7 linked regions of the Homo sapiens genome follow. The protein of the gene in region 4 interacts with the protein of the main gene of each other region in a pairwise test. Each region holds a gene or a part of one and is shown on either strand. Other genes may lie near its edges.

Evidence for each region.
Region 1: the proteins of MAPK9 (region 4) and DUSP4 interact in binary tests that used the Homo sapiens proteins (3 or more experiments, as listed by UniProt).
Region 2: the proteins of MAPK9 (region 4) and MLIP interact in binary tests that used the Homo sapiens proteins (3 or more experiments, as listed by UniProt).
Region 3: the proteins of MAPK9 (region 4) and SHMT1 interact in binary tests that used the Homo sapiens proteins (3 or more experiments, as listed by UniProt).
Region 5: the proteins of MAPK9 (region 4) and BNIP5 interact in binary tests that used the Homo sapiens proteins (3 or more experiments, as listed by UniProt).
Region 6: the proteins of MAPK9 (region 4) and PPARG interact in binary tests that used the Homo sapiens proteins (3 or more experiments, as listed by UniProt).
Region 7: the proteins of MAPK9 (region 4) and DUSP16 interact in binary tests that used the Homo sapiens proteins (3 or more experiments, as listed by UniProt).

Annotation. Positions count from the first base shown.
Region 1 is NC_000008.11:29,337,185-29,340,684, reverse strand, and holds part of DUSP4 (dual specificity protein phosphatase 4), read left to right. Parts: intron 1-441; coding exon 442-587; intron 588-2,183; coding exon 2,184-2,403; intron 2,404-3,273; coding exon 3,274-3,500. UniProt on the Homo sapiens protein: Regulates mitogenic signal transduction by dephosphorylating both Thr and Tyr residues on MAP kinases ERK1 and ERK2.
Region 2 is NC_000006.12:54,124,943-54,128,442, reverse strand, and holds part of MLIP (muscular LMNA-interacting protein), read right to left. Parts: intron 1-3,500. UniProt on the Homo sapiens protein: Required for myoblast differentiation into myotubes, possibly acting as a transcriptional regulator of the myogenic program. Required for cardiac adaptation to stress through integrated regulation of the AKT/mTOR pathways and FOXO1.
Region 3 is NC_000017.11:18,353,551-18,357,050, reverse strand, and holds part of SHMT1 (serine hydroxymethyltransferase, cytosolic), read left to right. Parts: intron 1-1,050; 5' UTR 1,051-1,069; coding exon 1,070-1,165; intron 1,166-3,233; coding exon 3,234-3,379; intron 3,380-3,500. UniProt on the Homo sapiens protein: Interconversion of serine and glycine.
Region 4 is NC_000005.10:180,250,584-180,254,083, reverse strand, and holds part of MAPK9 (mitogen-activated protein kinase 9), read left to right. Parts: intron 1-3,500. UniProt on the Homo sapiens protein: Serine/threonine-protein kinase involved in various processes such as cell proliferation, differentiation, migration, transformation and programmed cell death.
Region 5 is NC_000006.12:36,323,389-36,326,888, reverse strand, and holds part of BNIP5 (protein BNIP5), read left to right. Parts: intron 1-135; coding exon 136-379; intron 380-1,474; coding exon 1,475-1,606; intron 1,607-2,698; coding exon 2,699-2,760; intron 2,761-3,355; coding exon 3,356-3,500.
Region 6 is NC_000003.12:12,411,070-12,414,569, forward strand, and holds part of PPARG (peroxisome proliferator-activated receptor gamma), read left to right. Parts: intron 1-3,500. UniProt on the Homo sapiens protein: Nuclear receptor that binds peroxisome proliferators such as hypolipidemic drugs and fatty acids.
Region 7 is NC_000012.12:12,556,364-12,559,863, reverse strand, and holds part of DUSP16 (dual specificity protein phosphatase 16), read left to right. Parts: intron 1-3,500. UniProt on the Homo sapiens protein: Dual specificity protein phosphatase involved in the inactivation of MAP kinases. Dephosphorylates MAPK10 bound to ARRB2.

The sequences.
Region 1 (3,500 bases), on a different chromosome or scaffold from region 4:
CTTCTTTCTCACATTGGAGAACCTCCCCTGAGGAAGGGCTGGAATCAGGGGTGGCAGGTGTCTCTACAGGTACTTAGTGTCCTTGGAAGCCCAGCGTGACCTTTGCTTCTCTATTTTGTCATTGTCCTGAGGAGCTACTCCACAGTCACTTCTGCACATCCCCCTGCACGTCTTCCTTTGTATGTCTACCTCTCTAACCCAAGTCTTGTCCATAAAGCTTATCCTTCCAGCTTTGCTGCAGTCCTGACGAGTGTGTCCTCTGCATCTCTGGAAACCACTCCATGGCCATTCTCTAGGTCCACAGCGCCACCTAGTGGCCAATATGGAGCACGCCAGCCCCTGCCTTCCTAGCAGTCCGCCTGAGTCTGTAGGAGTCGAGTTCTTTCTGACTTCCTGCTGGCTTAGTGACCCCATTAACCTGAGCTTCTTTCTCCTTTACAGGCGGCTATGAGAGGTTTTCCTCCGAGTACCCAGAATTCTGTTCTAAAACCAAGGCCCTGGCAGCCATCCCACCCCCGGTTCCCCCCAGTGCCACAGAGCCCTTGGACCTGGGCTGCAGCTCCTGTGGGACCCCACTACACGACCAGGTAGACTCGGGGGGCAGGGCTTGGAAGTGGGGGGCAGGAACAGCGTAGGGGCCAGTGGATGCCTTCTTTTCAGAGTTCTGACGGTGTTTTTTGTCTTTGCTTTTGAGACAGTCTTGCTCTGTCACCCAGGAGTGCAGTGGTGTGATCATAGCTTACTGCAGCCTCGAACTCCTGGGCTCAAGGGATCCTCCCTGGTAGCTGGGACTACAGGTGGCACTACCATGCCTGGCTAATTTTAAAAGGTTTTTGGTAGAGATGGGGGGGGGGGGTCTTGCTATGTTGCCCAGGCTGGTCTTGAACTCCTGGCCTCAAGTGATCCTCCTGCTTTGGCCTCCCAAAGTGTTGGGATCACAGGCGTGAGCCACTGCATCCAATCCTGAGATTTTTTTAAGTCTTTGAATGTTATGCCTCAATTTGGGGAGAATGCGGTGAACCCGGAGTATTGGGGTGGGATGTTAGGTAGGACCTATTTACTTCTTGGAAATCTTCCCCTTCCCTCTCTAAATATCCTCCTAAGAAAAAAGTCTAAAGACATGACTCCCTGGCTTGGCCTCTAACGTCGTGTCCGGACAAGTGAGGAGGCCTCCAGAAGCCCTGGGGGACCTGCTCTCTGGGAAGCTGAGGTCATTCTCCTCTGAAGTAGCAGGCCATGAAATACATCTCAGTCCCCGACAGGCAGGCTGCTCCCACGTATCAGCCGAATGAACATAGATGGTCACCCACCCTCCCTCCAAGAAAACCTGCTTGAGCCACTGTGTTTCTTATAAGCCCACCCTCCAGCCCTTTCAGTTAGATGGACTCTGCTGCCCACATCTCATGTGCTAAATTTAAGCCACTGTTGCCTCATTTTGCCAAGATCCTCTCTCTTGTCTGTGTGGCCATGAGGGCATCAGCTTATTTATTTGTTTATTTTTAGAGACAGAGTCTCACTCTGTTACCCAGGCTTGAGTCCTGTGGCGCAATCATAGCTCACTGCAGCTTCAAAGTCCTGGGCTCAAATGATCCTCCCATTTCAGCCTCCCAAGCAACTGAGACTACAGGTGTGCACCATCATGCCAGCTTCATTGTTTGAGAGATGAGGTCTCACTGTGTTGCCCATGCTGGTCTTGGAACTCCTGGCTCACATGATCCTGCCACCTCAGCCTCCTAAAGTGCTGAGATTACAGGTGTGAGCCACTGCACACCTGTTTTTGATATGCCCAGTGAATACATATCAAAACAAATAAGTATCTAAACCACACAGCAAATGGCTTGATGATTAGCAGATATAAACTCAGTGTCACAGATGGTGCCATAAGGCCGGCATTGTCCTGCCGCTTATTTTGCCATGGGGGAGGTGCAGGAGAGTCCCACAAGACTTTACCTGCCCTGGCCTCTCTGCTCACAAGTAGAGGGCAAAGGCTGGAGAAGTCCCACTGGGCCTATCACCCCTCCAAGAGTTCCAGGAGGCTACAGGGGGAGGCTGGGAGGGCCAGGCCCAGCAGGCATTCTCCCTGGGTTTGGAAAGGAAAGCTCTTCTCAGACAAGCTTCCACTCCCTGTGCCAAGCACTTTACCCTCATGTCATTCAGGGGCCTTTGTTTCCCTTTCTGTGCAGGGGGGTCCTGTGGAGATCCTTCCCTTCCTCTACCTCGGCAGTGCCTACCATGCTGCCCGGAGAGACATGCTGGACGCCCTGGGCATCACGGCTCTGTTGAATGTCTCCTCGGACTGCCCAAACCACTTTGAAGGACACTATCAGTACAAGTGCATCCCAGTGGAAGATAACCACAAGGCCGACATCAGCTCCTGGTTCATGGAAGCCATAGAGTACATCGGTAGGCTGGCCCTGCTCTGGGGTTCCTGGGTTTGAGGGCGGGTGGGAAGGATAAGGAACCCCTGTAAGCCTGGGTTGAAGGTGGACATTGGAGGCACTGAATCCAAGGGTCCCCATTCCCCCTCTTCCTCATTGGGAAGGCTTATACATTGGATGTTGGGTTGGGAGGGAGGAGGGAAGATGGACCTACACACAGGCTTAGCTTGCAGAGCCAGTCCCCTTCCCCTTGCATGGCTTCAGTGCCTAGATGGTAAGAGTTTTTGGACGGGGAGGAAGACACAAGGAGCATTGAGTCATAGTTTTTATTTTATTTCTATTTATTTATTTATTTTGAGACAGAGCCTTGCTCTGTTGCCCAGGCTGGAGTGCAGTGGCGCCATCTCAGCTCACTGCAACCTCCGCTTCTGGGGTGCAAGTGATTCTCCTGCCTCAGCCTCTGGAGTAGCTGGGACTACAAGTGCACCACCACGCCCAGCTAATTTTTGTATTTTTGTAGAGACAGTTTCATCATATTGCCCAGGCTAGTCTTGAACTCCTGAGCTCAAGTTATCCACCCTCCTTGGCCTCCCAAAGCGCTGGGATTACAGGAGTGAGCCACCACCCTGGACCCCACTGTTTTGTTTCTGCAAAGGGAAATCCTTGAACAGATAATAGGATTTAACCAGCTTCAGCATAGTGATTCGGGAAAATAGACCTCAGAATTGGGGGCATTCTAGAGACCTGCCTACATGGGTTTTCTTCCTCTCCAGTCCTTGGTCTAGCACGGCTAGTCCTTCCTTCAGAGCCCCCCGACCCCAGGGGCTGGCCGGTGCCCCTGGTCGGGGCTGGGGTCTGCAGAAACGTGCACTAACCTATTGAACCCTGTCCCCAGATGCCGTGAAGGACTGCCGTGGGCGCGTGCTGGTGCACTGCCAGGCGGGCATCTCGCGGTCGGCCACCATCTGCCTGGCCTACCTGATGATGAAGAAACGGGTGAGGCTGGAGGAGGCCTTCGAGTTCGTTAAGCAGCGCCGCAGCATCATCTCGCCCAACTTCAGCTTCATGGGGCAGCTGCTGCAGTTCGAGTCCCAGGTGCTGGCCACGTCCTGTGCTGCGGAG
Region 2 (3,500 bases), on a different chromosome or scaffold from region 4:
CTTAGATAGAAAAAGACACCTAGGTTTCTCATTGGCTCTCTTTTTTCATAGGTGCTTTTATACTTTTCTGTTTCCTGGCTTGAATCCTGTCTTCCTACTTTTACCTTCTCTCCCTGAGTAAATTCCCATCACTTTAATTTATATGACGAATATCTCCAGTCTCCCTTCTCTCTCCTATGTCCAGGATTCATACTTCCAACTTCTTTCTAGATATCATCATATAGTGCCACCAAGGCATCTCAAACTCAACATCAGATGTCTAATCTCTTCCCATCCCCACCCAAGACCTGTTATTCATTCTTCAATTAATGATGCCAACATTCATCCAATGAGGTAATAAACTTCATTCATGCTTAATTTTTCCCATATATTGTCAATGAACAAGTTCAGCTAATTCTACCTCATCAGGCTCTCTGTCTATTCCCACAGTCACTATCTTAGCTCCAAACTTTATCATAGGTCTTTCAGACGAATCACTGTGTTGTATGTGTATTCACCTCTCCCGTAACTCTAATACTACCCCTAGAAAATTCTTAGACTTTTACATGAACATTCAAGTCTCTTTTTTCTGAATTTTATTTAAGAGGATTTTGATTCAACAGCTTATTTTACATAACATGTTTACTTTTGACATGCTTTGAAATTATTGAGTGATTTTTTTAACGTAAGATACTTTTACTTAAACATGCCACTTCAGGAAGCACTTGGGGAGTTTATCATTCAACCCAATATTTATATTGACTATGTCCCTGATAATATGCTAACCACTGTAGGGGACAAAAAGTTTAATAAAACTGAATTTAACATGGGCTTTACCTGTAAAAACTTTACAATCTCTTAGGGGAGATAAGACATGTATCTAAATAGCTATAGTACTGCCTATGATAATTATAAAATAGGTACAGAAAAAAAGCTATCAGAATAATGTTGGGAGAGAGATTGCTTTCACTGAGAGAACAAAACAGCTTCATGAAGGTGTCAATATCTGAGCAAGGACTTCACAGTTGAAAAGATATGCAATCTTTTGAATATTTCATTTTTTTCACTCACCTTATTGAACCCCCTTTATATGTAAGGCACTGCATTAAGTGCTAGGGATACAGAAATTAACAAGGGACCAGAACTTGATTTAATGTAGTTTTCAGCCAGTGAGGAAAAAAGATAAAAGTAAATTATTACAACAGAATGAAAAGGAATTATAATGGAGAATTTTTTCCCCCACTAAAAGCTATAAAATAATAAAGAAAATCACAAACATGAACAAGAACTAACTCCTTTCCAAAGGGAACATCTTTAAGAGGAGATGCTACTTGAACTGAGCTTAAATTATCAAGTAGCCTAGGTCAAAATGGAGAAGAGCTAGGGAAAGAAGGAAGCATTTGACCAGAGGAATCAAGGGCTCAGAGATGGGAAGGTATGAAGTATGTACTTTGGTGATTGTTCAGGAGAGCTGAAGAAGAGAGGTAAAAGATGTAGATAGAAAAAGACACCTAGGCTAGGTCATGGAAAGGTTAAAGGCCAGACTAAGAAGTGAAGACATTTCTTAGGAATAGCTTATCAATGACTAACCAATAGAGGTAATTTACAGACAATTCTATATATGGATTCATTTTCACCAGGTAGACTAGAAATTTACTTACTTGACTGTATTTCTGATTAAAAATTTGATATTGTTGGCATCAAGCAGCCCAATCGTGTAATTTTTTTTTAGACTTTGTACATTACAGTTCACTATATTAAACTTCCAGACTGCTTTCTTTGGTGCTCTGGTCATTTCTCCTTAGTTTACACTTGTGGCAATGGTCATCTTATTTTTATTTCATGATGACCTACAGTTCACTCAAGTGGATTATTATAGGAAATGGAAACAAGAGCAATGGTAATTGTTCAAATAATTGGTAATTGGTCAAACACTTTAGGATCTAGTATTCCACCACTACTGGTAATCATAATCTTCAGCCACAATTAATATATGAGGTTGAGCTCTGCTTTTTTATTTAGAGCTCTAATAACATGAACTATAACCTGCTCCTAAATAACCTTTTTTGGAAAAAATATTTTAAAGGACATATTCAGTCTCTAGATTCACTTCTGTATATTTGAACACACAAAAATAAAAATAAATGGCCAATTCAGGGGAAAAAACTATCAGTTGGAGAAAGAGTAAATCAAAGACCCAACAATTGCTTTGTTAATTTTTTATTAATACATTTTCTTCTCAGAGAAGTCACCTAAAGCTGTCCTCCCCTAACAATGGAAATTTCCACATTTCTACATCTCCAACTATTTCATTATCTTTTCTGAGGCAAGAAAGAAATATTTAAACCTATCACAGCATATTGGGAATACATTTAATTATATGATTATAATATTTTGTTCCAATACCTAGCTAAGAACGAACTTCAAGAAGAAATAAATGTTTTAGCCCAGTAAAAATGTGAGTACCGCAGTGTGTGTCTTTTACTACCAGAAGACAATACAAGATACTAGATGCTTGAAGATAATAAAAATGCAGCATCAGAAACTCAGTGAAGCCTACAGAAATAAAGATGGTGTGGCACCAAAACTCCAATGCTCATTCTACCATTTTGCATTGGTCCTGTCCTAGTAATGCAAAAAGACCAACACGCCAGTAAAAATGTCCTTTAAACTACTTTGGGTTGATTGCAAATGCCTGGTCTATTAGATCCTAAATGGGACATCTGGGTAACAATTCGTGGTCATTGTCAAGAAGTTAGAGCTCTGCATCCACTACCTACCTACTCTCAAAGCCAGCGTCTGCATTCCTAACATTCTAACTACACTTCGTCAGTCACCTTACATTTTCATTATAGCAAATAGCCAGTCAATGGCAAATTATTCTATTTTTCAACTTCAAAATGCCTCCTTGTCCGCATCCTTTCTTTCCTGCCATCACAGATGTGGGTCTTCTCCTATTGTACCAGACTCTCTCTACCTTAAAAGAACCATTCAATCTTGCCACTAAGTTTTGGGGTGGTATATTTTCCCCCTCTCACTGAGGTCAACCCCAGCCTTGTGGCTTCCAGGACCACAAAAGATGTTTTCCTTAGGATACACAGGGGAAAATTATTTTTCTTACTCTTATTTCCTAGTTTATCCTTTTACTAGTCTTTTACTAATTTAAAATCAATGGGTCTACCTCTAATGTCCAATTACCGTCTTTTCACTAGATCTTTCTTACGTCTGAAATATGCTTCTTGATGGACCCAGCTCACCAAGCACACTCTTCTTGACTAAAGAAACTCCTCATATCAACCTTCTCCAAGAATTATTTAAAGGAAAGAGGTAGTATTCTCCCAAATTTACTCCAGCTAAATGTTTTACATTTTCTCTTCAGCCAATTCACAGCATAATTGCTTAATCCTTTTTATCTTATATATTTATTATCTGTGTTTACACTATGATGATTTATTACCCTGAGATAATGGTTTTTTAAATATATTTTTCTTTGAAAGTTTTGTCTGCCTTAAACAGGATGG
Region 3 (3,500 bases), on a different chromosome or scaffold from region 4:
CTCGGCCTCCCAAAGTGCTGGGATTGCAGGCGTGAGCCACCGTGCCCGGCCGGAAAATATTCTTCATGTATAGCAGTGTTGGGTACCGCAGGAGATTTTTTAAAAAGTAGCACTCAGTCCTTACCTTCAAGGAACTTAGTTTAGTTGTGGGAGATAAGCTATATCCATGAGAAGTTTGGCTGAGAGGAGGCGGAGTTGGGCTCCCTGCAGGTGGGGAGGAGGGTCAGTTCTCATTTCTGAGGGAGATGAGCTGACGTCTGCAGTTTGGAAAGGAACCAGAAGTTCCACATGGTGGTTTTGCAATAGAACATGCTCGTGTTTACCAAGCAATTCTGAGGGAAAGGCTAAAAAAAGTGTTAGTTTATCAACTTGATAGAACTAACAGGTTTCGATGAGCTTTGATTCAATATAATGCTGCGGCCAGGCATGGTGGCTCACGCCTGTAATCCCAGCACTTTGGGAGGCCGAGGCAGGCGGATCACTTGAGAGGAGTTCAAGACCAGCCTGACCAACGTGATAAAACTCCATCTCTACGAAAAATACACAAATTAGCCAGGCGTAGTGGCGCACGCCTGTAGTCCCAGCTACTCAGGAGGCTGAGGCAGGAGAATCACTTGAACCCAGGAGGCGGAGGTTGCAGTGAGCCAAGATCACGCCATTGCCTGGGTGACAGAGTGAGAGTCTTGTCTCAAAAAAATAAAAATAAATAGGTGGGGCGCGGTGGCTGACACCTGTAATCCCAGCACTTTGGGAAGCCAACGTGGGCGGATGACAAGGTCAGGAGATTGAGACCATCCTGGCTAACACAGTGAAACCTCGTCTCTACTAAAAATACAAAAAATTAGCCGGGCATGGTGGCATGCGCCTGTAGTCAGAAGATTGAGGCAGGAGAATCTCTTGAACCTGGGAGACGGAGGTTGCAGTGAGCCGAGATCATGCCACTGCACTCTAGCCTGGGCAACAAAGACTACATCTCAAAAATAAATAAAAAATAAATAAAATAAATAAATTTAATTCTGGAAGCTACACATGTTTTTCCCATTTTTTTAGGCAGCTTCGAACCAGTGCAATGACGATGCCAGTCAACGGGGCCCACAAGGATGCTGACCTGTGGTCCTCACATGACAAGATGCTGGCACAACCCCTCAAAGACAGTGATGTTGAGGTGAGATTTTTGGGGTCTTCACAGATTTTTTTATGTTGGAGGCCTTCATTTAATCTTTAGTTCTAATTACAAATTAATTAGGGACAGCCTTGAAATGAGTATTATCCTGCTGGATTTAGAGGTGGTGGCAGACAAAATGGCTACAAATCCTTTGAGGGTAAATTTAAAGATTGCTGGGTTTCTTCAAAGTGTGGAGCACTGTGCAGGGTGCTCTGGAGAAAAGCGAGAAGGGGAGAGATCACTGACAGTTGACCCTTTCCTGACAGTTCACAGGGAATATAGATCTATCTAGACATCTGAAAGCACCTTTATTTTATTTTATTTTACTTGTTTATTTATTTTTTTGAGACAGAGTTTCACTCTTGTTGCCCAGGCTGGAGTGCAATGGCGTGATCTTGGCTCACTGCAACCTCCACCTCCTGGGTTCAAGGGATTCTCCAGCCTCAGCCTCCTGACTAGCTGGGATTGCAGGCACCCACCACCATGCCCGGCTAATTTTTTTTTTTTTTTTTTTTTGAGACAGAGTCTTGCTCTGTCGCCCAGGCTGGAGTGCAGTGGCGTGATCTCAGCTCACTGCAAGTTCCACCTCCTGGGTTCATGCCATTCTCCTGCCTCAGCCTCCTGAGTAGCTGGGACTACAGGTGCCTGCCACCACACCCGGCTAATTTTTTGTATTTTTTAGTAGAGGTGGGGTTTCACCATGTTAGCCAGGATGGTCTCGATCTCCTGACCTCGTGATCCGCCCACCTCAGCCTCCCAAAGTGCTGGGATTACAGGCGTGAGCCACCGCACCCGGCCTTTTTTTTTTTTTTTTTTTTTTTTTTTTTTTTTTTTTGAGATATAGTCTTGCTCTGTTGCTCAGGCTGGAGTGCAGTGACGCGATCTCAGCTCACTGCAAGCTCCATCTCCCGGGTTCACGCCATTCTCCTGCCTTAGCCTCCCGAGTAGCTGGGACTACAGGTGCCAGCCACCACGCCCTGGCTAATTTTTTGTATTATTTTTTTTTTTTTAGTAGAGACGGGATTTCACTGTGTTAGCCAGGATGATCTTGATCTCCTGACCTCGTGATCCACCTGTCTCGGCCTCCCAAAGTGCTGGGATTACAGGCGTGAGCCACCACGCCCGGCCTAAAGCATCTTTTCTTTTAAGGAAGAAGAACAAGGAATAAGGTTCAGGGAGGGAGAAACTTGGTGAAATGTAGGAATAAAAATAACAGGATGGTGGTGTTAAAAATTAGGTGGGACACTTAAAGATAACTTTCTCTTCAATCATTTTGTTTTTCTTTTTCTGAGATGAAGTCTCGCTCTTGTTTCCCAGGCTGGAGTGCGATGGCGCGATCTCGGCTCACTGAATCCTCCACCTCCCAGGTTCAAGCGATTCTCCTGCCTCGGCCCCCCGAGTAGCTGAGATTATAGGCGCCTGCCACCACACCCATCTAAGTTTTGTTTTTTTGTTTGTTTGTTTTTGAGACAGAGTTTTGTTCTTGTCGCCCAGGCTGGAGTGCAATGGCGTGATCTCGGCTCACTGCAACCTCCGCCTCCCGGGTTCAAGTGATTCTCCTGCCTCAGCCTCCCGAGTAGCTGGGATTACAGGCATGTGCCACCATGCCCGGCTAATTTTGTATTTTTTAGTAGAGACGAGGGTTTCTCCATGTTAGTCAGGCTGGTCTCGAACCCCCGACCTCAGGTGATCTGCCCATCTCGGCCTCCCAAAGTGCTGGGATTACAGGCGTGAGCCACCACGCCCAGCCAAGTTTTGTATTTTTAGTAGAGATGGAGTTTCACCATATTGGCCAGGCTGGTCTAGAACTCCTGACCTCAGGTGATCCACCAGCCTCGGCCTCCCAAAGTGCTGGGATTACAGTCGTGAGCCACCGCACCTGGCTATCATTTTGTTTTTGTTAATTCATTGATTAGTGCTTTCTCAGATACTAAAACCTTTGAGGAGGATTCATTCTATTCCATAATGTGAAAGAGTGTCTTTTCTCTTTAGGAGGTTGTAATTTGGATCAGAGCAAAATTTTAAACTAAAATTTCCAAATATCAAGCATCTGTTTTCTTCTCATAAGGTTTACAACATCATTAAGAAGGAGAGTAACCGGCAGAGGGTTGGATTGGAGCTGATTGCCTCGGAGAATTTCGCCAGCCGAGCAGTTTTGGAGGCCCTAGGCTCTTGCTTAAATAACAAATACTCTGAGGGGTACCCGGGCCAGAGGTATGTGAATATCTTCAAAGGCCTGGTTCTGACACAGTCATAGGGAGTACTCAGTCAGCCTAGGACCTAAACAATTTGGAAATTTCAGAAAACAATAAGCTTCCCAGCTGTAGGATTTCTG
Region 4 (3,500 bases):
GAGGCAGGAGAATTTCTTGAACCCAGGAAGCGGAGGTTGCAGTGAGCTGAGATAGTGCCATTGCACTCCAGCCTGAGCAACAAGATCGAGACTTCGTCTCAAAAAAAAAAAAAAAAAAAAGAGATTGAAGCATTAAAGGCTGACTGGAAGTACTGAGTGAATGGGTAAATTGTTAAAGAATGGGTGTCTCTTGGACCACAGGCAGCCACAGGTGTCACCTTCTGTAGGTTTTTTCTCTGGGCACCATTTAATTTCTCTGGAAAAGGCCCCTTCAGTCCCTTGGTGGAGGGATGTAAGCCTGGCTGCTGGGGTACAGGGCTGTGCTTCTCATGTGGCAGAGCGCAAACTCACCAGGCAGCCCTGTTGCAGGCAGGCCTCACCGTGCCTTCCCTGTTGGTACCCACAGGACTGTGCATGCGGCGCCTGTGGCCCTGCACCTGGAAGCTGGGCATCAGTTTCTCTGCGTGAAGGGCCAGCAGGAGTGAGGAAGGAGTGGAGCCTCACTTCTGGGATGGAGATGGGGATCTGGGACATCTACTACGTACTTGGACTTTCAATAAAATGAAAACTTCTCCAAGTGCTACCCTTGCCTCTTCTGCCTCCATAGCACCTGCATTTCACTTGCTGAGCCTTTCCTGGGTGTCGTGGCCATTTATAGAGGTTGGCATTTCCTTCGCTCAGCTAGGGCATTTGGGCGGCCCTGCAGCTTCCTGTCCCTGTAGCGTGGGGCTTTTCGTGGGCGGCTTCCGCATGCCACGGTGGGTTAGACAGGCGAGGGACTGGCCGGGAGGAGGCCTGTGCGAGAAGGAAGGGGGAGCAGCCAGAGGAGGCAGCAAATGCTAGCTGAACGTAGTGCAGTCCTGGCCCCTCAGAGGCCTGGTCCAGACTGCGGTGCAGCTCTGAGGGCCTCCGGTGTCACACAGGAACGGGCCTGCCTCAGCATCCCTGCCCGGTCGGCCCCTGGCTGACGGCTCTGTGGGAGGTGTGCCCTGGCAGGGACAGAGGGTAGGTGCAGACACCACACTGGGCCATCTGTCACTCTCACTCCTGTGGCGGGAGACCAAGGAGTGCATTTCCGTGGACCCCACAGTCCACCCTGGCCCCCTCAGCTCTACTTCTCCACATAAGTTGGGAATGGCTTTCCTGTGGCGCCCATGGTTCTCTCTTCCTCAGGGGAAATCTGGAAGACAGAGGTTAGTGGGACACCCTGTAGTCCCTGTCACTGTGGTCTCTCTGCTGGCTCTTTCCCTACCCTTTCCTGTTATTCATACCCTCAGCTCTCACATTGGCAGGCCTCTGTGGCTTGCCTGGCCTGTGTCCCAGGCCTTCATTCCTGAGCCGTCTGTGTCTGGTGGCTCTCAGTGGGCCACAGGGTCCCAGGCCACCCAGTGGCCGTCTCCCCAGTCCTCAGTGTGTAGCCGGAGCGGAGGCGCTTGGCAGGTGGAGTAACGCCCACACGAGTTCCTTGGCCTGTGAGTAAGAGTCGTCACAGTGGGAAGGCCAAATGGAAACCTGAAACTGCCCCCAAGATAGTAAATCAAAAACAAGATCACACCCTGCAGGGCCCGGGGTGGGTGGAGGAGACTAGGGCCACCATGGAAGCCTCAGGGGAGCAGAGACAGTGGTATCTTGCATCCCAGTCTAACTCGTTAGTCCAGCCCTTGAAGAAGCTGCATGGATTCTGGAGAATGACCCCAGACGGCCACAGGCTTACGGCACTGGCAGTCCTGGCCGCAGCTGCTGTGCATGTCAAGGTGCAGTTGTTGCTGGAGCAGATTAATAAGGCCTCAGGTCTGGCATGTTGATGGGGCAAATGCATCCTCCACACTGATTAGAAGAGAGGCCCAGACAGCGCCCACACTGCTGCAGGCTGGACAGCAATGTTCTCTCACAGCCTTGCTCTAAGCCTTTGCTAACGTTCCCACCCTCCCATAACATGGCCGCAAGAGACCTGGCCCAGACTTCACTTATGCCCTGACCCCTGACCCCTGACCCCACGAACCCTGCAAGTGGAGGAGCCCTGAGAGTGTTTGGGGTCTTCGGGTTTCAGTGTCTACTTAGAGCTGTGTCCATTCATCCTCAAGAGTGCCTGGCTGTTCTTACCCGGTGGGTGGCCACAGGTACCTGTGGGGAAGGACCGGCAAGGCCAGACAGTGGACACCTGTCATGATGTGCTCCTTCCTGGGATACCTCTCAAGCAGTGGGTCTGGATCCCAGAGTTGAGCGGGCAGTGGGGGAGGTCAGCACCTGCCCCACTCATGCTGCGGGTGCTGTGGGTACCCTCACTGCTGCCCACAGGGTAGCGTTGGGTTCCAGGCATTTTGGGAGCCAAGCCCCGATCCAGGCGTCACTTGGATCTGTACTTGGCATTTGTCTTCTTTGTTCTGAGTGATTTTCAAGACTTGAAGGGGCAGAACTGTCTTTCCTCTGCTGTCTTGAAATTGAAGTGAGGTGTTGGGAAGCTGCCTCAGGTTGTATTTCGGGGGTGACTAGAGAGGGTCCCAGGGTGCGGGGAGAGCACCTCCTTAGCCACCTCCCCATTGGCCACACAGAGCACCCACACAAGCTTGGGACTTTATCACCACAGTCTTCCAGCAGACGGCAGTAAAGTGTGCTTTTCCTGTTAAATTAGTATGTGATGACAGTTTTTTGACAGATGGCAGTGTCTTCAGATGAGCGTGTTTCTGGCGCACTGGGGTTCACAGAGCTGGCAGGCAGCCCGTGGAGATGGTTCCACTGCTGCGTCTGTCCTTGGTAGAACCAGGCTGTCCTTGTCTTCCTTGCTCCTGCGGCCGTGCTGTTAGTTCTGGGTGGGCTGGGCTTCAGGGCCTGCTGGCTGGGGAAGTGTGTGCATTTCACACCTCAGAAATCAGCCTCCTGGAGAGAAAGTGCCCACTGCACACCCTCTGTGGCCTGAGGAAGCGCCTGTTTCTGCTTCTCCCGCCAGCACCGAGTCTGCTTGCTTTCCATCGCTGCCAAGTGATAGACTAAAAATGGGCATTCATTTTGGGTTTTTAAAGAAGATTTTTGTGAGATTGAGCATTATTTTATCTGTTAGTAATTTATGTTCTAAAATGCCTGTTCTTGTCATACTCTTTGATTTTAAAAAAGGAAACAAGAAGCGAATTCGTTCATTTGGTCTTAGCTCCCTGACTTGGTCCTCACAGCGGAGCGTCCCTGGTTGAATGTGGGCTGCTTCTCCCTGGCTTTCCTTCATGCAGGGAGGCAGCCCGGTTTCTTCCTCTCAGGCCTTTCTGGGAACCGGGGGTGTCTGCACAGTACTCTAAGGTGGAATGGAGGGGCTGGGGGCCTCTTTTTGGGGCCAGGTAGAGATTGTGACTGCATTTTTAAACATTATATGTTTATCATTTAAATCTTACAGAATCTAGGAAGCCTAGAAACAGGTCACTTAGCAGCATGGCAGTGTAATTGTACCTGTTGTCAATGTCGAAATGGCTTCCTGCTTGCCCTGATGACAGCCCCACAGCCTTCACTGAGGC
Region 5 (3,500 bases), on a different chromosome or scaffold from region 4:
TCCCCCTGCTCTGGGCTCTGCTGCCTCCCCTCTCTCGGGGCCATCTTGCAGCTTGGCTGCTCTTCACTTGCCTCCAGAGAGCTTTCCCCCTCTCAGTGTCATGAACCTGACCAGTTTTTCTCCTCTCCCCAACAGCAATCTCTGGCCTCACAGCTGGGGGTGGCCCTGCCAAACCCAGCACCAGCTGTTAGGAAGAAATCCCAAGAGAAAAAGACAAGCCTCAAGAGAACCTCAAAGACAAACCCCAAGAAACACGGCTCCGAGGAGGCCAAGAGGGGGGCTGCAGATGTTTCCAGTCCAGAGGCCTGGCCACCCAAGAAGTCCAGCTTTCTGCCCCTGTGTGTCAGCGGCCATCGGCCTTCCATCTCCAGCAGCTATGGTGAGCAGGCTCTGCAGTTGCCATAGCAACCCTGCAGCTGCCTCCAGCTCTGGAACCTTCCCTGGGGATGGAATTGACCATTTTAAAGGTTGCGTTGTGCCTGGTCTGACTTTTGCACTCTGCCCTGAGTGGTGTGAGGATGACTGTGGGAAGACAGAAAGAATGCCAGCAGGTCACCTCCACACACAACACCTCAGCGAGCTCTAGGCAACCCCAATAAGCCCTTGATGGAAATTATGTTCCGGGATTTCCCAACCGTCAACATTTCTTGGCCGCCTCAACTTCTGCACCCTGGCAGGGAGGGGAGTAGTGTGTGCAAGAAGGAGCTGGAGCAGGGGAGGCAGGAGACCTGGGTTCTAGCATATTGTCTATGTCATTCCCCATCTTTGTGCCTCAATTTCTTCACCTGTAAAGTGAGACATTTCCCTGCTGCATATCTATAACACGATCAGTCCTCACAGCCATCAGATGAAGTGCAACTATTATCCCCACAGCCATCACATGGAGTACAACTATTATCCCCACCTTACAGATGAAGGACCTGAGGCTTTGGGAGGTAAAACAATGTGTTCAAGGCCACATGGCCCATGGATGATGGGGCCAGAGCTAGAGGCGGAAAGGATCAGACAAGTCATTTCTTCCTGGGCATCAGGGAGAACAGGTCATCCTGTTAGGTCATCCTGGCCAGGAGAATTTACATCTTAGAAAGGAGGGAGTGACGCTTAACACCAAAGAGGGGAATTTCAGGCCCATGGGGAGATATTTTCATGCAGGGGGATTCTGGCTATGATTCATTAATTCATGCCATGGGACCAGGCCTCTACTCTTCAACTTGTGGATCAAGTCAAAATGGTGGAGGGAGGAGAGGGCAGCAAAGCCCAGGAAAGCCAGTTCTATGGAAGCACAAAGGGATAAGGGAACTCGGTCTGGGCCAGTAAATCAGAGGCACAGCCCTGCCCAGCAGCTGTCTTCCAGCCCCATAAGTCCTTAATGTGATCCAGCCACGGAGCCCACTTTTAGTTTGTGCTAGCTTCTGTGCATAGTTAACAGCCCCAGACAGACAAAACACACCCTCGTTCTCCTTCTGCTTCTCAGGCTTGGAAGAACCTAAAGTCCAGGAGGCCCCATCTACAGAGGCTGGGGCTCCAGGTCCCTCCGTGCTTCCCACCCCATCAGAGAGCCAGGAACCTGGAGAGGAGCTTCCGCTGGACAGAGCCTCGGAATACAGTCAGTACTCCTCTCTTTTTCTCAGACACCCCTTGCAAAACTTCTGTTCTGACTCCCCCACTTGCAAAGAGACACTGAGCCAGAGAGAGGCAGTGACCTGTCCAGACCTCCCTCTGAGTACAGCAGGCTGGGGAGGCAGCTTGGGGCCCAGAGCCCAGGCCCAAGCCAGGCTGCCTGTCTGAACCTCGATAAATGGCGATAGTGTTGGTGCTTACCCTGATGAGGCAGACAGGAGGCAAAGGGAGGAAAGTGCTGGCCCACACCAAGGGCTCGGCCAATGGGGTGATCTTATGGACCTTGGTTTGAGTCTGGGCTGTGACCCCTTTGAGCTGTGTGGACTTGGGCAAGTTACTTCATCTCTGGTCTCAGTTTCTTCATCTGTGAAATGGGGGCAGCAAGTACCTGCTTTCTAGAATTGTCGGCAGCATTTAGGGCAGCCCCTGTTAGTGGCTAATATGTGTTAGGTGCCATTTGTTGCTATTATTGTCATTGTTGGGTGGCCCAGCTTGAGAGCAGAGCTCAGAAGTAAAAAGGATAGGGACAGGGGTAGGGGCCTTGGGAGGGAAGCTCAGCTAATGGCAGCTGCCATCGCTGTAATTATTATTTTACCATTGGCAGAGCCAGGCCTAGAAACATATATATATATATATATATATATATATATATATATATATATATATATATATATATATATATATATATATATAATATCACCGTCAGGTCTGAAAAGACCTGGAAAGATCTCTGCCCCCTATCCCCTGCCATTCTGCCTTGTTTGCTTTTCATAGAAAATATGCCTTGAAGGGAAATTCTGCCTGGACAGGGAGAAGGTGCAGGATGAGGGCACCTGTAGGGAATGGGCCTTTCCAGATGGCCCTGAGGGGCCTCCTCCTGGGTGTCTATTTAGAGGCCGTCATTGGTAAAGTGAATATGTATCCCATGAAACCAGCTCTGCCCTCAGGCCACCTCTGGCAGCTCTTTAGCCCCCTTGGAGAATCACCCAGGGAGCCACCGGGGCATTAGGAAATGAAGACTGACCGCAGAAGAGATTTCGTAGCACCAAAGTTAACCATGCGTGTTGATCTTTTTCAGAAGAATTCATTCAGAAGATCATTTCCATGCTCCAAGATGCAGAAGAACAGCAAGGAGAGGAGGTGAGGAAGACGCTCCCCATGTAACCCTGACCTCACTGTGGGCTCCCCAACCCTGCCTGGTGTAACAACTTCCCTGTCTCTGCTGCTCTTCTGTGTCCTGCTCCAGTCCCTCCTTTTTTTTTTTTTTTGGAGACGGAGTCTTGCTCTGTCGCCCAGGCTAAAGCACAGTGGCTCGATCATGGCCCACTACAACCTCCACCTCCTGGGCTCCAGCGATTCTCCTGCCTCAGCCTCCTGAGTAGCTGGGACTACAGGCATGCGCCACCACACCCGGCTAATTTTTGTATTTTCAGTAGAGACAGGGTTTTACCATATTGGCCAGGCTGGTCTCGAACTCCTGACCCCTGGTGATCCACCTGCCTCAGCCTCCCAAAGTACTTGGATTATAGGTGTAAGCCACTGCACCCGGACCCAGTCCCTCCTTCTTGAAGCTTCCCCAGCCCCCTCCAGACCACACATATTTCCCCAGCACTGAGCATCAACCACTCTTCTCTGGGCAACGCCTGCTAGCCCACCGTGGCTCTCTTTCCCCACCTCACCTGAGATCTCCTCAAGGTCAGGGGCCCTGACTCAGTTTCTCTCATCTCCCCCACAGCAACCTCAAGTCCAGCAGGAAGAGGTGGGTGTAGAAAACCCGGCCCCACACTGCAGAAGGAAATCTCAAGAAAAAAGGTCGAGCTTCAGGAGAGCGTTTTACCATAAGAAACACACCTCCAAGGAACCCAGAAGAGCGGGGGCAG
Region 6 (3,500 bases), on a different chromosome or scaffold from region 4:
AATAAAATAAATTCTTCTATTGCCAGGACTGTCAGGAATAGCTAAAGATGTAAAAGATCTAAACCAGTGTGTTCTTTCAGAGAATAAGTTAAAAATAATATTTTATAGAGTTAAAAAGAAAAGCACTTGGATTTTTTTTTTCCAATGGCTGGACTCAGTTGGCCAATACCCTTGTTTGCCTGCTGAGTAACTCTTTGGCTGGCAATTGATTTTTTTAAGAGCTGTGGTTATGTGCTAGTTCATTAGCATGTGAATAATTCTTCATATTAAGTTTTCATTTGTTTGTCGTAAATCTCTAAACCCTGCAGGAAAGCAGAATATCTTTGACAGCTTTCAAACTTCACTTCTATCACACACAGCACTCCACCAGCACCTCTAGGAAACAGTGGTTCAAAAGGCCCTGCCCCAAGACCCCAGCATGTTAAGAGCGTTAGTTTAAAATCTCCAGTTCATCCTAGAACAATCATTTTAAAAGGAAAAAAAGAAGTGGGGAAGTCCTATAGAAAGCAATGGAAAGGGAAAAGTTCTCAACCCAGAATCGGGGCTTAGGTTCTAGTTCCTGGTTTGCTATAAATGGCACTTTGACTTTGGAATGTCTCTGGCTTCCGTTTATCCATTAGTCAGAGAATGATGGGACAGATTACTTCTGAAGACCCCTTATGTCCTATAAATCTCATAGTTCTCAACAAGAGGGAAACGGGAACAACAGGGGCAGAAACCAACGAGAGGCTGAGGAAACCAAACCAATGAGTTTTGGATTGTAGCTAACCGAGGAGAACCAGGTGTGTCAAAGGTGATGAAAGTCAGATGTGTAAAAAGCAAGAAGGAAACAAAATGAAGAACATGAGCCCTAAGAATTCAGTGTCTTTCCCTGGTAAAACTAAGAACATCAGGAAAGCCACACTCGATGAGGCACACATTTTTCCAAGCCAGTTTTCACTCTGACAGGGTTACCTCAAGTGATTGTTTGAGAGAGGGTAGAGGGGTTGACTACACTCATTCAATCTGCCAAATTAGAAAAGTCACCCAGAATACCCTGTGCTTTTTGAGTGATTTTCATGTTTATCTCCCGTAGCTTGCTATTTTGTTATTCAAAAGGAGTGTAAACTTAGGGCATTCATGTATAATACCTTTCATAACTCATGTTAAAATGCTGATGTTATTGGATTTCTCAGGAACACTACTGTTCTATTTCTCCATTCAAAAAGGTAAAAAAAAAATTAATTACTCTATTTTCATCATTAATCCCATTTCCCCCATTGTCTTTGTATTCTACATAGGAAGCATGCCATAGATCTATAATTGAATTTACTCATCTATATAAAACAGTACTTTTAATCCCATCCTGAAAATCAAAATATATTTTTGAAAATCAAAATATGTCAAAATTGAAAATCAAAATGTCAAAATATTGAAAATTGAAATATATCAAAATTAATTATATTTGATGTATCCCTCAAAAAATTGATTTCTCCTTACAGAAATCATTTTGCTTTCCTGGAAAAACACTGGGTTCAAGTGCAGCTTTCTTCATTCCGTTCTGGTCTGTCCAGTATATGAAAAGCACAAGCACACAATGACCAGTGACAGATTCACCATGAAGCTAATGAAGCTTCATGGGGCCCTTCCCTTGTGCAGAAGTCCTTCCAGTGCTTGGGGAAGGGCCGAAGCAATTTTATTCTCATAATTTGTAATATTTTCCTTAGAGAGACTCCACTACTGTGTATATTTTATGCCCCACAAAACCTGAATTCACCCCATCATGTCCCATTTGTAATTAAGCTTTCTTTCCTGTTAAGGAGGGACGCTTACCCAGCCCTTTGATGTACGGTCTGAAGATAAATACACTGTTAGCCCCCAACTAGAAGTGTAAAATCATTAAGACAAAATTTGAGAATGATACGGCTCCTATAATGGCAATCTTTGGATGATACTGTCCAAGCTGATGGAAAGTGTAAGGACTCCACTTTGCTTTGTAAAAAATACAAAAAAACAGCCATGGAAGTGCAGTACATTTTGTATGGAACATTGTACCACATTGTACCAAATGTCATGTTAAATTAATGATTCAAGATAAAATGCAGACCAAATTTGACCAGGGTTTTAAGAGGTTCTCTCTCCATAAAGCAGGCTGGCCACGATCTTCTCACTAGGTTTGAGGGTAAGGAGGTCCCCTGTGAAATATGAAAGTGAACTCTCTGCTATCTAAGAATTGGTGAATTGGTTGCAAAGAAAGGCAGACCAGGCCCACCCAGGGATCACTCTTGCAGTTTGACAGATCTACCTGGAGGCTGAAAGAATCTATGCAGCCTTCGGAAATGCAGTGAAAACAGTATAATCAGATATGACTAGGGAAAAAATAAAACAACTGGTGTTCATTTGCATGTCAACACCCAGAATTCTCTGCTAGTTCACCTCTTCTTCAGAATGCAGAAAGGATTGAAAAAGCTGGAATGGGGCCGGGCATGGTGGCTCATGCCTGTAATCCCATCACTTTGTGAGGCAGAGGTGGGTGGATCACCTGAGGCCAGGAGTTCAAGACCAGCCTGGCCAACATGGTGAAACCCCGTCTATACTAAAAAATAAAAAAATTTAAAAAAAATTGCCGGGCGTGGTGGTGGGTGCCTGTAATCCCAGCTACTCTGGAGGCTGAGGAGAATCACTTGAACCCAGGAGGTGGAGGTTGCAGTGAGCCTAGATTGCGCCATTGCACTCCAGCCTGGGCAACAGGAGCAAAACTCCATCTCAAAAAAAAAAAAAAAAAAAAATGAAATGGTTTGGCATGATGGTGGGGTGCTGATTCCTCTCTCTGTCCTTGAGTATTTACTGCCAGGAAATCCTGACCAACATCAATTGCCAAGGGGTTAAAGTCACATTGTTGTTAAATTGGGAGAGAAAATTAGCAGGATTTTGTGCCCTATGTTCAACTATTACAGAGTTTCAAAAACAGGAACCTGGAGCTTTATATGAGGGGACAGGGGAAGTAAAGGGGAAGAGTGACAAGGGTGATTTATCAGGGCATAGTTCCAGATAAATCACTTACATGGAGGTGAAAGAATTTCATGCATATGTTCTGTGCCAAGAAGCCAAATGGTTGAGCAGAAGCTCTGAAAGTTGAAGTGGGCAGTTCTGGGTACAGTCTTTCCACATGTGAAAAGGTGATGATTTTATATTCATGTTATTTGTACTCCTGCATGTGCAGTTGGTCTTTTCAGGTGTCCAGATCATCATTTTCTCATGACATGAAAGAAAGCCAATAAAGGCTAGTTGTGGTGGCTCACACCTGTAATCCTAGCACGCACTTAGGGAGGCCAAAGCAGGACGATCACTTGAGCCCAGGAGTTCAAGACCAGCCCAGGCAACATACATAGCAAGACCTCATCTCAAAAAATGAAATAATTTTTTTTTAGAAAAAGAAAGTAAATATTTCATTAATATAAATTATAATACACTGTAAAATGCCTGGAGGACAAGAAACACGTTTTCTCTAGGTTCTGTGA
Region 7 (3,500 bases), on a different chromosome or scaffold from region 4:
AGGGGGGAAGAGTAGGTGTGAGAAGGTTGCAGAGTTTAGGTAGGGATCAGAATAAGAGGCAGGATTTATGTGTTAGTGTGTTTTGATGCTATTTTCTGTAAATCCCTGGACTGGGAATTTAATTTCATACAGTGTTTAGCATATGGGATTAATATATTGATGAAGCAGACTTATATAGCTGTCCAGTATTAAATTTTTTCAATTTTCAGCTAATCCTAAAAATCCTACTAAATATAATTTGCTAGAATTACCAGTGTAATAATTTATCCTAGAACTCCCAAGTTTTCCTAGACAAAAATAATTTTCTACTTCGTGTTACCTGAACTAAAAATTTCACTGGACATTCAGTGTTTTTAAAATGCATTAAGTTCTCAAGCAAAAGGTACTTTAATTTGAAGAAGTAAATTAATATAGGGTGAACTGATTTGGATCAGAATCCCAAGAAAATAAGGAGATAACTTAGAGGAAATAAAACAGATTTTATGACAGATTTCAACAGATGAAAGAAACTAGTTAAAAAGATTTCACAGGAAAAACCATAGTTGGTGCTTGATTGGCTTTAAAAGAAATTTACTGATCATTTAAAACGGAGATATTCACCATCATAAAAGAAAATCCGAATGTTGGCTTAAACAAAAACATAATTAGGAAAATAAGTCTTGCCCAAAGCTACATATGATAAATTCCAAAGCCAGATGTCAATTTTTTTTTTCTGATTTTCTTGTGTTGTAGACAATCTGTTATTTGTATGCATTTCATTATCCTTGATGATCAAGGGTTGGCTGTGTGAAGAGAGGTTCATAAAGGTTGGCCGAATTTAAAGAAGCAGGCTCAGGCTTTAAGAAGAGCTGGTTCTTCTACACAAATGGATTGAGACAGGGAGTTAGAATTTTAATCAAATAAATAACTGGAGGAAACAGTGGCTCAAAAGAAGGATGTAAGACAGATTACCTTGGACAGGTACAAAGAAATAATAAAAGCTTGCCAGGAGTATGATCAGTAAGGAAGGGAACAGAATACATCTTGCCATGAAAGGAAAGAGGAATAAGTGGAAAAATGCCCTCTGATACCTCAGCAACAAGAGAGAGGAATGAAACTTCACGCCCTTCTTGACTGGGGTTAGAAACATCATTATAGGTATTGCCACAAAGTCACAAGATTTTTTTATTACATTAAAAAATGTAGGCCAGGCGTGGTGGCTCATTCCTATAATCCCAGCACTTTAAGAGGCTAAGGCAGGAGGATCACTTGAGCTCAGGTGTTGAGAACAGCCCTGGCAACAAAGACCTTGTTTCCACAGAAAATCAAAAAATTAGCTAGGTATGGTAGTAGTACGCAGCTGTGGTGCCGGCTACTTTGGAGGCTGAAGTGGGAGGATCTCTTGAGCCTGGGAGGTCAAGGCTGCAGTGAGCTATGATGGCACTGCTGCGCTCCAGCTTGGGCAACAGAGCAAGACAGTGTATCAAAAAAAAAAAAACATATAATCTTGAGGGATAGTGATTGATAGGGTAAATTATGAGCATTACTTATATGAGAATGTAAAATTTAAAATTGTCAGAAATAAAAAGAGGGATTCGCTGTAATATCATGGCCTATTTTGAGTTATTTGAAAGGGAGGGATACATTATAAACTGAAATTATTAACTGAATTTCTGGATTAACTACTGATAGGAATCAAGCAAAACATTTGTTAGCAGTATGCTGTTTACATGTGCTGAGATGGATTCCAAAAGTTGGGGACACTGGCCCATGTTATGGAGAACAGGATTATAAGAATTTTAAGGGAGATACATACATATGCAAAGATAATTACCAGACAGCTGGCAAGTGCCAAATTCAGGTACAAAAGAGAAAGAGGGCTCAGGGAGGTAATCTTCATAGAGATAATAGAATTTGACCCTGGCCTTAAAGATTGGTTAACATGTGTATGGAGAGAGGGAAGTGGGGGAGGCGAAAGGCGGAAGGTATTCACCCATCTCATTCAGCAAATTTATGCTGATCCTCTACCAAGTGCTAGACCCTGGCCATACAGTGGAAAATAAGAGAAAGTTTTTGCCCTTACGTAACTTATATTCTAGTGGGAGAAGACAGGACAATAAACAAAGACAGTAAACAAGTAAACAGTACATTAAAAAAGTGATGTTAAATAGTGGTCGGTAGTAAAGGTAATGATCAGGGTCGATAAATTGCACTTATTCTGTGAATCACTTGCTTTGCCTATGATAGTCTAATGAACAGTCTTCATGTTATAACTTTTTAATATTCATGTGCAGTCCAAATGAATTTGAATAAAAATCTACACATTAACCAGTTTTTAAAAAAAGAAATGGGAATTAAAGAAAAAGAAACCTATGTGACTTTTTTTTAGGTCAAAGCATGGAAACTTAGATTTTTTTTTTTTTTTTTTTGAGACGGAGTCTTGCTCTGTCGCCAGGCTGGAGTGCAGTGGCGCCATCTCGGCTTTCTGCAGCCTCCGCCTCCCGGGTTCAAGCGATTCCCCTTCCTCAGCCTCCCGAGTAGCTGGGACTACAGGCGTGTGCCACCGCACCCAGCTAATTTTTTTTTGTATTTTAGTAGAGACGGGGTTTCACCACGTTGGCCAGGATGGTCTCGATCTCCTGACCTCGTGTTCCACCCGCCTTGGCCTCCCAAAGTGCTGGGATTACAGGTGTGAGCCACCACACCCGGCCAGAAACTTTAAATTTTTTTTTTAATGCCTTGTTAATGTATCCACAGTTCTTTTGCTGCCATTTGCTAAGAATCTCATGTTTTTTTACAATGAGATTAATGTCATTGTTTACTGTTCAGTTAGCTTTTTCACGTATTGGGCTATATTCTTAGGTTAGACTCTCTGTTAGGAACAATAATCACCATAGTGTCATAAAGTGAAGCTAAATTCCAAAGATTGTTTTGTATGGGAACATACAAAAGAAAAGATGTACAGACAATAAACTGTTAGGCTTAATTACCAATAGGTAAAATAGGGTAAGGGATGACACCTGTTCAACTCTTGTCCCTATGGCATATTGTTCCTGTATTACTACAAAAAGTAAAAACCTGAAGCAAAGATGTTCCAAAATGGGGAAGTCTTGATCTTTCCTGTAGTTATTGGACTGCCAGGTTTGTTTTGTTATTGTTTAGAAGATGTCCTTCATAGTGGTCAACTAAAAACTGATATTATCAGGAGCTATTTCATGTTTTGGGGCACATTTTGTTCTTCTGAAGCATTCTTTAAGAAATATGTGCCCTTCACTCTTTTTGCAGTTTTTAATTTTTTTTTTTTTAATTAAAGATGGGGTCTGTCTCTGTCACACAGGCTGAAGTGCAATAGAGCAATCATAGCTCACTGTAGTCTCAAACTCCTGGGCTCAAGCAGTCCTCCTGCCTCAGCCTCCCAAGTAGCTGAGACCACAGGTGGTGCATGCCACCACACCCGGCTAATTATTATTATTTATTTTTATTATTTTTATAGAGATGGGGGTCTCACTTTGTTGCCCAGG